Regions from separate parts of the Homo sapiens genome. Here all the other regions are linked to region 1. Evidence: fine-mapped expression QTL. A gene starts in region 1. Each other region holds a variant in brackets. All regions are shown on one strand. Distances are from middle to middle. Region 1 holds the start of ST8SIA1 (ST8 alpha-N-acetyl-neuraminide alpha-2,8-sialyltransferase 1). Region 2 holds the start of C2CD5-AS1 (C2CD5 antisense RNA 1). Region 3 overlaps ST8SIA1 (ST8 alpha-N-acetyl-neuraminide alpha-2,8-sialyltransferase 1).

The links. PIP is the estimated chance that this variant, and not a neighbour inherited with it, causes the effect. A credible set is the group of variants that fine-mapping cannot tell apart.
Region 2: its variant is the best candidate, but not a certain one, in a credible set for the expression of ST8SIA1 in sun-exposed skin (GTEx, PIP 0.60).
Region 3: its variant is the best candidate, but not a certain one, in a credible set for the expression of ST8SIA1 in blood mononuclear cells (TOPMed, PIP 0.61).

Annotation. Positions count from the first base shown.
Region 1 is chr12:22,332,424-22,336,668 of GRCh38, forward strand. It overlaps ST8SIA1 (ST8 alpha-N-acetyl-neuraminide alpha-2,8-sialyltransferase 1), which reads right to left and starts at 2,284. Exons shown (of 5, transcript NM_003034.4): 1 at 1,574-2,284. The coding sequence starts at 1,809. It overlaps LOC105369151 (a long non-coding RNA gene), which reads right to left and starts at 1,567. Exons shown (of 2, transcript XR_931426.3): 1 at 430-1,567.
Region 2 is chr12:22,574,555-22,578,799 of GRCh38, forward strand. C2CD5-AS1 (C2CD5 antisense RNA 1) reads left to right here and starts at 3,723. Exons shown (of 3, transcript XR_001749044.2): 1 at 3,723-3,878. It also overlaps the pseudogene LRRC34P1. The variant A/G (reference allele first, on the strand shown) is at 2,407.
Region 3 is chr12:22,249,121-22,253,365 of GRCh38, forward strand. The region is part of intron 3 of ST8SIA1 (ST8 alpha-N-acetyl-neuraminide alpha-2,8-sialyltransferase 1); the gene reads right to left. Among named protein-coding and RNA genes, the nearest start is that of ST8SIA1, 83 kb to the right of the region's middle. The variant C/T (reference allele first, on the strand shown) is at 2,580.

The DNA.
Region 1 (4,245 bases):
GACTCTTTCATTGCAAACCAATGGGAAGTTCTTAACTCATTTCCTTAGATCACTTGAAATGAAAGTGCTTTCTGTCTTTAGGGAAAATAATTGCTGGATGTGATGCCTTTTGCCTGCTCTTGAGTCCCACAATCAATACTGTGAAGGAAAGAAAAAATTAACCCTTAGATACTTTTAGGAAGAGTGAGGTTATTTTTAAATTCAATGATGGTAGAGTTCTAAAAAGGGAGAAGGAAAGTCCTCCCTTCCAAGGAGAATGCAGTTGCCTTCCTCTAAACAAATTGGCTCTGTTATCTTTTTAATCCTCTTTCCAGGAGGAGGCCTGAGAAGGAGATGGAAACCATATGTTTAAAAAGTTTTTAAAAATGTATAGATGCTCCTGAATATTTGTAAATAACTGCAGTGAAAAATGTTTACATTAGAACTCACCTGCCCTTGCACTGATTAGAAAGATCCTCTACAGAGCAGAGGAGATCATTTCCAACCACCCAGACCACTACAATCACAGGAAGAAGCCAACAGCAGCATCTTCAGCCCCAGAGACTAAAGGTGAAAGGGGCACCTCGCAGTGGTGGAAGCACCCGTGTGTTCCCTCAACATGCCTGGGGAGGTGGAGAGGAAGGGGAAGCAGCTCTGCCTTCCCTCCAATCTAACTACACAACCCCTGCTGCCGTAACTTATTTTTAGACATTTAATCTAAAATTCCCAGAAAGGAAGCGGATCTACAACCTCTGAGTGATCCTCAGAGTTCTGATTTCCAACCTGGCTTGGGCATTTTGTTTGTTTTCTGACTTCAGGTGCCTACTTAAAGTACATCTCCCATCTTCCAGAGGCATCCACAGCCTAAGCCAATAAAAAGAGCTGGGAGCTTTGGAGCTTTAAGTGATGAAAAATCCAGCACCCACAGGTCAAAAGTAATGACCTTGGGGAAGTTACTCATCCTTCTAAAGAATCAATTTGTGGTCAACAAGATGAGATAATAATACTAGACAGCTGTTCGAGATTTCAACACAAAAATTGCACAGTATCGTCTCTTAGTAGACGTCAGTCAGTACTATGCACTTGCTGTGGGCACACTGCGCAAAGCTGCGGGATCCGTCCATGTTTCCACTGCCCATCACTCCGACGTTGGGGACTTATGTTACCGACTGTGCACTCCACCTCGGGGAGATGCCTTTTACCTGCTTCTTGTTCCCTACAGCTTCAAATGTCTGCAGAGCCCAAGAGGTAAATTCTTATTAAGTGCAAGAGACTAAGTTATCCTGGGTTCTCCTTCCCTCTGTTTTGTTTATCCGTAAATTGTTAAATAAAACTCCGCTTTGGGAAGAAATGCGTCGAGTCTTTACATGCGCAAAGCAGGTGTCTGCACATCTCTGGGGATCAGGGGTGGGGAAGGAACCCTGACTAAAGTCTCCAGGTTGGGAATGGCACAAATGGAGGGAAAGGACATGGAAGAGCGGATGAAAGGGATGCCTCTGCGAGACGGTGCAAGGCGGTCCTCGCCGGTGACCCTGTCCTCTGCACTCGGGGAGGAAAGGACGCTAGAGGGGAGGAGCCGCGAGGGCAGGAGTACCTGAACGCTCTGGCCGCGGTCTGGTTCCTCCTCCACGCCGTGCCCTGTTGCAGCACCCCCTGCACGATCTCTTTCTCGTTGGGCAGCCGGTAGACGGGGAAGATGTAGAGCCAACAGAGGACCACGACACAGAGGGCACTGGCTCCCATGGGCAGCCGGGTCCGCGGGAACTTCCACGCCAGTACAGCCATGGCCCCTCTGGACGTTTGTCGCCGGGCCCGCCCGCAGGGGCTCATCGCAGCCCCGGCGTCCCAGGGGCGGGGGCCGGGGCCTCAGCACAAAGCTAGGCGAAGTGGCAGCGGAGGGTCCCCCACCGCCAGCCCCCCATGCACACACACCTTTGGTTCTCTTACTTGCAAACGCACGCACGCTTCTTCGGCCCCGTCGGCCCCAAAGGTCAGCGCAAGGATTTTTTCAAATGCAACTTTTCCAAGGATTTCTTTCTAGGGGAAGTGGCTGGGGGTGAAGTCACGATCTATGGCCATGGTCGCTTCCCCTGCAGAAGGCGGGCGCTGGGGTCTCCGAGTGCGCAGAGAGCGGCGGCGGCGAGTCGCTCCCGCCGGTTCTGCAGCATCACGGTCGCCCTCGGCGAGGGTCCGGGAGAAGGCTCGGCTCCCTCCTAAACATGTGGCCCGTGGCGTCCCCTTGTCCCCTCCGAGCGATGCTCCTGCGCCCTTCGCCGCCTCCCGCGCTGCTGCGCCGCCAGGCAACCCCCCCCCCCCCACCCCGCCCCGAGACGCGCTCTCTGCGCCGCACCAAGTCCTTGGAAATTTCCACGGCGGCCCGGGACCGCTATCCTGCCCCGGGCTCCTCCGCCTCGCCCGCCGGGACCCTCGCTCCCCACCCCTCCCGGAGAAGAAAAGAACTCGCTCTCATCAGTTAATTCAGCGGCGCGCCGCAGCCTTCCGCTGCGCCCCGGACTTCGCAGACAAACGCCCGGGGATTGGTGGAAATCAAGGTCTCCCCCTCCCTCCCCCACCCGCAAAATTGCCTCCTTCGACCCGATCCGAGCCGCGACACTCGCCCAGAGCGCGCACCCCTCACTCGTGCCCTTGTTCTTTGGAGATAACGGCAGACAATAAAAACCAACAGCCCCCCGCCAATAGAAATATATCAGTCCCTGAGTGTGGCGGAGACTGGCTAATATCCTGATCCTTCGACAAGCGGCCGGTGTGCCCAGGCTGTCACCCTGCTGCCGTCACCCTAGTCTTTCTCTAGCTGGTTGGATATTAACCCGCAGCCAGGCGCGAGGAGGCTGGCGGAGATTTATTCCTTCCTGGGCCCCCACCCCCATTAGCCGGTCCCGGAGCCGCGGCCCGTGTGTGTGCGCGCGCGCCCGCACACACACACACACACACACACACACACACACACACACACACGTTCACGGGCGCAAGCGAGCGCGCGCACGAGGAGGTGCGTGCACTCCGGGGTCCTCCGCCTCGCCTCCTCCCTGAAAGGAAGTGCTGCATCCAGATGTGCAGGCAGCTGGTGCCCAAACACTAGACCTCAAGATGTCACATTGCCTTGGAGGCGCGCGGCCTTTTAGATTAAAGGACCGTTGGTTCTTAGACGTCCTTCTTGCCCTTCTTGCTTGTGATAAGCGATAAGCTTATCGCAACCCCGACCTTGGAAAAGCACCACCCGCCTTGACCCACCGAGCCGAGAGAGTCGCTGTTAGCCATTTCTGCTCGCCCCGGCGGCCGACGCATAGCTCGGGTACCTCCTAGCGGTCGCCTATTCTATTTGCTTAAGCATCTCGTCAAGCATAAAGTGTGCAAGGACAAAGAAGAAACCTGGTCAGCTTAGTCATCACGAAAACAAAATCTAAGGCTATAACTCCATTTGTTCAGCCGACCAGGCTGCGGTGTCTGGTACCTTTGTCTAGCATCCGTCTCCACTGAGAGGTGGAACTTGAGAAGTTGATGCAAAGTTATTTACCAAAAGCGAAGTAGCATCCCAGATGACCACTTTAGTGTCATTTTCTCAACAATACTGTGCTCTTAGTTGAGTGACCTACTGCCCTCCACCGGCAGGCATGCCCCAGAAATCTCTGTCCTACTTAGGTAAATCAGTAGAGACAGGGGAAACCTTGAAATCCCAGTCACATCTTACCACAGTGGAGGCTGATACAGATTCTTTAAAATGAAGATCATCTTAAGTCCTGCAAAGTAACCAGCCAACTCTCTTCTATCCTGGAAAAGGGGAAGGGAAGGGGGAGCTTTTCCTACTTGCCTGGGCTTTGGATAAATCATCTGCCATCTTTGATCTTATAATTTAAGTAAAACACAAACCATTCCCATTTTTCTTCCTCAAGTTCAAGGACTATTTGTAGAGTAAATAACAAAGAAATAAACTGACAAACAAAACTAGGGCATATTACAGTTATGAAGGGGCTATGTAAATGTTTCCCTATATAATATCATAAGAATGCATTAAAGTCATGCTTTACATCAAAAGATCTGTGTGACACAATGTGCTGTTTTTCTTTCTTCTGCAAACTAAGAATTCTCTTACCTTGGTGGGCTTCTGCCCACCCAACAATCCAAACTTATTCCCTGCTTTTTCTTAACATGAGCACCAAATCTAATCAGGTCATCGCTCTCACCCTTCCAAGTCACACTACATTGGTCCGTTCTCACATTACTATAAAGAATACCACTGAGACTGGG
Region 2 (4,245 bases), 240 kb after region 1:
TTAATTCATCCTTAGAGAAAGTAGGTCTGGGTTACTGTGATCTGGGAATGCAAAGTGTGATAGCATTTGCTACGATACTAACTCAAAACAAAGCAATTAAGGGAATAAACCTAAACTGACCTATGCAGTATGGCAAACAGAAAGAGTCCACAGCCCACGTAGGCCATATGTTGAAAGAAAATAACTGCCTTGTTCAACTACACATGTGTAAGCATAATATAAAAAACTGTAGTATACAACAATTATATGTTATTCAATGTATCTTAACAGTAGCCTATGCTACCTTGATGTCAGCTGCAATCAAATATCTCAGGATGGAATTATGTATCTAGCTCATGTAAAAGCAATATTACCCTAGAAGCAGTAGATTTTTCTTTTAACAGAATAGAAAATGCAGGAGCTAAGTATCTCCAAGAAATTCTTACTTTACACAATGGGCATTTTAAAGCATTGTCAGTAGTCAGCAACAACATAGAGAAGGACTTGCACTTTCACAATCAATGAAAACGAATCCCACATTTTCTAATATCTACATTTGGAGAAACAAATTTAGCCTGGGCAACATAGCAAGACCCCATCTCTACAAAAAGATTGCAAAAATTAGCTGGCCATGGTAGTGTGTGCCTGTAGTCCTACTTGGGTGGCTGAGGTGGTAGGATCACCTGAGCCCAGGGAGGTCAAGGCTGGAAGTGAGCTGCGATGGTGCCACTGCACTCCAGACTGAGCAACGTGAGACCCTGTCTCAAAAACAAAACAAAACAAAAACAAATTTGATGAGGCTACAGGTGTATCATGTTCAGACATAATTCAAATAGGCCATCTAAAAACAGACAATAGGCCAGGTGAACTGGTTCATGCCTGTAATCCCAGCACTTTGGGAGGCCGAGACAGGCAGATCACTTGAGGCCAGGAGTTCGAGACCAGCCTGGCCAATATGGGGAAACTCTGTCTCTACTGAAAATACAAAAATTAGCTGGTCATGGTGGCACACACCTGTAGTCCCACCTACTCGGGAGGCTGAGGCACAAGAATTGCTTGAACCCAGGAGGCGGAGGTTGAAGTGAGCTGAGATCACACCACTATACTCCACCTGGGCGACAGAGTGAGACTCTGTCTCACAAATAAATAAATAAATAAACAAAAGCAGATAACCCAGATGTGGAGTTATTTGTGGTGGATGGATGCTCACAGAAGTCTCCAATGACCTTAAAAAACATTATTATTGAACTCCAACTTATGGAGAAGTTTAGAGTCTCTCATCTAATGCAGATTTTGCTCCTGTTCCAGTAAGTCAACACCTAGGAAAAAGAAGATATAAAATCATTTTTTTTTTTTTGAGATGGAGTCTCGCTCTGTTGCCCAGGCTGGAGTACAGTGGCACAATCTTGACTCACTGAAACCTCTGCCTCCAGGGTTCAAGCGATTCTCCTCCCTTGGTCTCTTGAGTAGCTGGGATTACAGGCACGTGCCACCACACTCAGCTAAATAAAATCATTTTTATACATTTGTCTTATTGCTTTCACAGAGATTTTTATAGCTTATTAAATTTTTCTTTCATAAATTAAAACAAGTTACTTTTATCAAATGTATAAAAGGTAATCACTATATTAAAGTTTGTATAACTGTCCATTGTGGGAAAAAGAAAGCTTTCAGCACTGAAACATAATTTTTGCAAAAATTATTCATCCAAACACAGACGCTGGTGAGTCACAGAATCATGGTAAAGACAATGATCCTAATGAATTAAGAAATCTGTGGAGCAAAGTGTACTTAGAATTGGTTTTGGTGCACAGAGTTATGAATTTTGTGCAGACACATACTTCATAAAAAGAGCTAAAGATGCAAATAAGCACATGAAAAGATATTCAATATCATTAATCACTAGAGAAGTACAAATGAAAACCACAGTGAGATAACACTATACAATCTGTACTAGTCTGCTTGGCTATCACAACAGAATATCACAGAATGGACTGCAACAGGAATTTATTTTCTCACATTTCTGGAGGCTGGAAGTCCAAAATTAAGAACCAGTATGTTGGTTTCTAGGGAGGCCTCTTTTCCTGGCTTACAGGTGGTGCCTTCTTGCTGTGGCCTCACGTGGCCTTTCCTCTGTGCACGTGAATTCCTGGTGTTTCTTCCTCTTATAAAGATGCCAGTTCTGTTGGATTACAGCCCCACCCATGTGATGTCATTTAACCTAAATTACCTCCTGAAAGGCCCTATCTCTAAATACAGTCACATTGAGGGTTAAGATTTCAGCATATGTATTTTGAGGAGGACACAATTGAGTTCATAACAACACCTAAAATTAAAAAAAACAAAACAAAAAAATGAAAATATAAAATGCTGGCTAAAATACAGAGCAACTAGAACTCCCATACATTGCTAATGGAGATCCAAATA[A/G]TACAACCATTTTGGAAAACAGTTTGGCAGTTTCTTATAAAGCTAAATATACCATTAACCCAGCAATCCCAGTCCTATGTGATTACCCAAAATAAATGAAAACTTATATTCATACAAAGATTTCTGCATGAATATTTATAGCACCTTTATTTATAGTAGGCCCAAATTGGAAATAACCAAAATGTTCTTTGGCTTGTGAATGAAAAAAAAAAAAAATATATATATATATATATATGCTACATCCACACAATGGCATACTGCTTAATAAAAAGAAACAAATTTGTTTGTCCATTCACCTATTGATAGACATTTGGGTTGGATTCAGTTTGGGGCTATTATAAATAAAGTTGCTATAAATACTCAGATTTAAATTCTTACGTGGATATGTGTTTCCATTTCCTTTGGATAAACCTAGGAGTGGAATTGCTGGGTTGAACTATATGTTTAACTTTATAAGAAATTGTTAAACTATTTTCCAAAATTCCCATACCATTTGCATTCTCATCAGCAATCCATGAGTCCTAGTAGATTCACGTTCTCCCCAACATTTGATGTTATCAGTCTTTTTAATATTAGCCACTCTAATGGATGGGCAGTGGTATCTTATTGTGATTTAAATTTGCATTTCCATGATGACTTAAGATAATGGACTTTTTTTGTTTTCTTTTTTTGCTATTCATATATTTTCTTTTGTAAAGTGTCCTTTCAGATCTTTTGCTCAGGTTTTTTTTTTTCTTAAAGCTGGAGTCTTACTATATTGCCCAGGCTGGAGTGCAGTAGTTATTCACAGGTGTGAGGATAGTGCACTACAGCCTCAGACTCCTAGCCTTAAGCAATCCCCCAACCTCAGCCTGCTGAGCAGCTGGGACTACAGGCATGTGCTGCCATGCCTGGCTTTTTGCTCAGTTTTAAGAACTGGTTTCTTTGTCTTTGTGAATTGTAAGAGTTTTGTATATAAGCTCTTTATCAGTATATACATGTACGACAAATATTTTCTCTGTGACTCACCTTTCATTTTCATGGTTGTATTTTTCAGAGCAAGAGTTCTCATTTTGATAAAGTCCTATGTATTCATTTATTTCTTTTATAGCACATGCTTTTTATGTTCTATCTAAGAAATCTTTACCTATGTCAAGGTCACAAATTTTTATAACTTTTAACATTTACATTTAGTTCTGTGACCCATTTCAAGTTAAGTTTTGTGAAATGAAGATTAAGGATTAAGCTTCATTTTTTTTCCCTCTTGTCTTAATCTGTTTTGTGTTCCTGTGAAGAAATACCTGAGACTGGGAAATTTATAAAGAAAAGAGGTTTATTTTGCTTATGGTTCTACAGGCTGTACAAGAAACATGGCACCAACATCTGCATCTGGTGTGGACCTCAGGCTACTTCCATTCATGGCGGAAGGTGAAAGGGAGCTGGTGTTGCGGAGATCACATAGAAAGAGAGGAGGAAAGAGAGAGAGGGATAAGGTACCAGGCTCTCTTTAAGAACCAGCTTTCTTAGGAATTAATAGAGTGAGAACTCACTTACCCCCAAGGAAGAGCACTAATCTATTCATGAGGGATCTGCCCCATGACTCAAGTACTTCCCATTAGGCCACCTCCAACCTTGGGGATCAAATTTCAACATGAGATTTGCTGGGGACAAACAACCCATATCCAAACTATAGAACTTCTGAATAACCAGTTCTTCCAGTATCATTTGTTGAAAAAGATTATTCCTTTCACATTGAAATACCTTGGTATCTTTGTCGAAAATCAATTGGCCATGTATGTGTATAGTTCTATTTCTGCCTTTTATTCTGCTTACATCTATATTCCATATATAAAAATATAT
Region 3 (4,245 bases), 83 kb before region 1:
TTTGGAACAATTTGCATAGTTTTAAATCATCAGTTAGAATAATACAAATAGAAATGTTATTAATTCTAGCTGAATTCACGAGTAACTGTTTTGTTTTTTGTTTTTTTTTTTTTTTTGAGATGGAGTCTCGCTCTGTTGCCCAGGCTGGAGTACAGTGGTGTGATCTCCGCTCACTGCAAGCTCCACCTGCCGGGTTCACGCCATTCTCCTGCCTCAGCCTCCCGAGTAGCTGGGACTACAGGCACCTGCCACCACACCCGGCTAATTTTTTTTGTATTTTTAGTAGAGACGGAGTTTCACCGTGTTATCCAGGACGGTCTCGATCTCCTGACCTTGTGATCTGCCCGCCTTGGCCTCCCAAAGTACTGGGATTACAGGCGTGAGCCACTGCACCCAGCCAGTAACTGTTTTTTGTTTTGTTTTGTTTTGTTTTGTTTTTTACCACCTCTCCCTTTTAATAGACATTGGATGAATAATTAACTATCAGCATCTTCCAAATGCTGTCATAAAAACTACTCCTGTTTAGTAAGAAAGATAATGTCAGCCAAAGGGGCAAATTATCTACAAAAAGAAAGAGACAGTAACTAGGAGGTATTTATTCCATTCAAAATATTTTTGAGAGGGTAGGACAGACATTCTTAGACCTGAATTAAAGCTCAGGACAGTGTGATACACTAGAGGACATGGGACCTACAGTACCTCTGCACACCCATAAATCTCAAAAGACAAGGAGGAATTAATATATTTTCTTGTGTTTTTCTTTTTCCAAAATCAAAATTATAAGAGTGCATTCAGGGCCATGTACTATTCACTTAAATCACAGCATGTCTGACTTGTGTGTGTGTGGCCAATGGGTAGGCTGATTACTGGTGAAGGTATAATGGCTCATCATCCAAAGAAATGCAGTGATCCACCATCCCAGTTCAGCCAAAGGAAAGAGTACAGGTGATGTTTCCCTGGTGATGGGAACAGCCACCCCACTCCCACTCCCAAAACCCCACCCTGCCCCAGTTGCTCTCCTTGGCCACCATGTCTTATGAATGCTTACAATGGGAAATATGACCACTGCGAATTCAAATCCCATGGCTTTCTGCCTGTGGAACATTAGGCAAGTTAATTCATTTGCCTGACTTCAGTTTCTCCATTATACAAAATGAGGATAATGATTTTTCCTCTTTTCTTGAATTGTTGTTAAGGACTAAAAAAGGTATGTAATATAAAAATTCCCCAACCTTGATGTGTACACTTAGTAAATATTCAAAAATATCACAGGTCAGAAATAGCATACAAAAATAATTAAATATGTATTTATTATCTATGAAAATGCCAAATGCGCCTATAGTTTCCATTATGCTTTCTTTTATTACTGAGTCCTCATTTCTCCTCTTCAACCATATGTCTAACTTGATTCCTACCACATTAGGGCATCTGTAACTTTTTATTACTTCAGTAAACCAAAGCATCATTTACTTGTAGGTAAAGATATCTTACAAATATTGCAGTCTCTGCTAGTTCCCCAACTACTAAATTTTCCCTACAAATTACCCTCAGTATCCAGGCACCCACTCAGCTGATCAGCTCAAGTTCTCTGATTTTGTCTCTTATTTACCCTGTGAGTATCAACACATCAAGGCATCCTAGGCAGAAACTTGTCTCAGTTGATTTAGAATCTTCTTTTTATCTGCTCTTCGGTGATAAGATACTGGTTTTTCTGGTAGCTACCAACAGGTCAGTTAACCAGTCAGTGGCTTTTGCTGAATGCCCACTGAAAGCAAACACAGTGGGCATTATGGGGGCCTTGGGGGTGGAGCCCAAGTCAGAGAACCTACTCTTGAAGTATCCACAGTCAAGTGGTTGCCCCATATCCCATGTGGTTTCCTGAGGATTCTCATGAGGGAGTGAGTTTATGCATTAACAGCCAGGCTCATCCGGCTGTGGTAACTGATTGTGGTCTTGTGATTTAATTGATCTTTGCAAAGAGGAAGATGACTTCCAGGATAAAACACAGACTAAAATTTGGATACTTATCTCTTAAAGAAGCTTTGATCTTAATTGCCCTTGGAAGCAGGTGAGAATCAGCTATGTTACGCTAAAACTGTAAATTCTGAGTATTGCTGGAGAGTACTGTCAACATGTTTTGTCATTATTAAACAAACTGGTTTTCATGAGTAAATACTTTGTTTTCCTGTGTGTTCCATGGCTCATGTGTCTGGGTCTTTTCATATTTACTGCCACAGAGTAATAGCCCAATAAAAACTTGCAGGTATTTATTATCTTCTAGAACAGAGGTGAATGCTTAAAACCATGAAGATAACATTTTATATGAATTTTGATGTATTTCCAGAAAATAATGACAATACATTTTGGTGTAAGTTCTTCTGGGTAAACTTTTTCTCTAAGTGCAAATATCTGTGACACTTTCCTGTATCTCTTCTCTCAGGAAAAGCACACCAATAATTTTAGTTCCTCAACTCATAAATTGATAATTACAAAGATGTACACAAAAGGCACATTTAATACAGTCAAATTGTTTTAATAAGGCATAATTGTGGTGTAAAATGTTTCAAAGTTTGCATTAT[C/T]GCTGTTGGCACAATTAACAAATATTAATGACTAAAGTGTCTTAGCAACTGTGCTCATGATCCTAAAAGAGATCTGATCAGAGAATTAATGAGAAGTGAATATTCTTTGAATTGGGATGTGGAAGTAAGTGGGAAATGGGCTTGAGAGAAAGAAATCTTAAAGCAGAAAAATCATGAAATTACTTTAATTTTTTTGTATATGTGAGCAGGCAAAACATACATTTGAGCATAATTCAAAAGGCACCAAAATTATGTTCCCTCATTCATGTCCCCAAGCCAACCAGTTCCTTTTGAGGATGCAATCCCTGTTAACTTTTGTCTGGCAAATCTTCCCAATAAATTGAATTCAATGATATTATTTTTTAAAGTACTGCTTTTGGCTACAGAGCAAATGTTTACTTTGAGAAATGGGAAATTGATTTTCAGCACTAGAAGATGTGTTTGAAAACATTTAAGCAAAGAAAATTATGAAATTATTATATCCTAGTCCTAGAAGACACTTTGAACTGTAATCTGGTATATCACTGTGTACAGGCAGTGCTATTTTTGGATGTTCTCTCTCACTGTATCTGTCCATTACACACCCTACAGTCTAGGACCAGACATACGACATGCTTTCTAATCTACGTTTATTCATTAAATGTTTAATTTTGAATATATAATATCTCGATACATTAAGCATGCCCCAAAATGCATATTAAGCAATGATTTATTAATAGATCTGCAAATGGTCAAATAATTTTGAAATAATTTATCAACTTTTATTACTCCTATAATTTAAAACATACATAAGGCTTTTAAACATTAAAATGTGTCATAAAACAGAACTATTCTTGAAATTAAATCAAAGGCATACGCATACATAGTTCTAGTTATGGTGCTACCTTCTTTGAGTTCTTTCAACCCTCATCTCCCCATATTTTAGAAACATTATGCTTAATACTGTGCCAGGCACTCTAATCAGAAGCGTTCATTAATTCTGAACTTGACTATATCAACACCAGATTGCATATAAGGCTAAAAAAGTCTTGTTTACTTGTGATAAATATGGCCCACTGGAAACAATAGATAACATTCTATGGTGCCTAAGCCTAGTCTTCTACACATTAGTAAACGTCCATCTTCACAAATGGATGACACACACACATACACACTCATGAATACAAAAATACACTTATTGTACTGCACGAAGTGTATTTACATTTCTACGTGTATCAAGGCCACTTGAAATCACTTCTTTGAATCTGTGAGTTGAATACTACGTATTCCTTCTTCCTTACATAATTTTTGGGAAGAGCACAAAAACTAATAATACTCAAGAGCAATTTGAAAATTTAAACTAAACTACATAAACGGTGTTACAATGATACGGTATTCATACAGTCATAGATAGAGTAAGAGTTGCCACAATGGGAAGGGCCTGAGGAATTGCCTACTCCCGCTTCCTCCTACAAATTAGAAAGCTGGGCCCCAGCAAGGGTAAAATAATGCACTGTAGGTCACAGACCTAGTCAACAACAGCAAGGACTTGTCTCCTATCTCGCTGTGTTCTTTGCTGGCTCTTCAGCCTCACCTAATGCCAAAGTACTGGAGAGGGTGCCTGAAGGTGGTTCAGGACTCCCTGCTCTTCTCACCTATTCATGCTCTCTAGGTGATTTTCTCCACT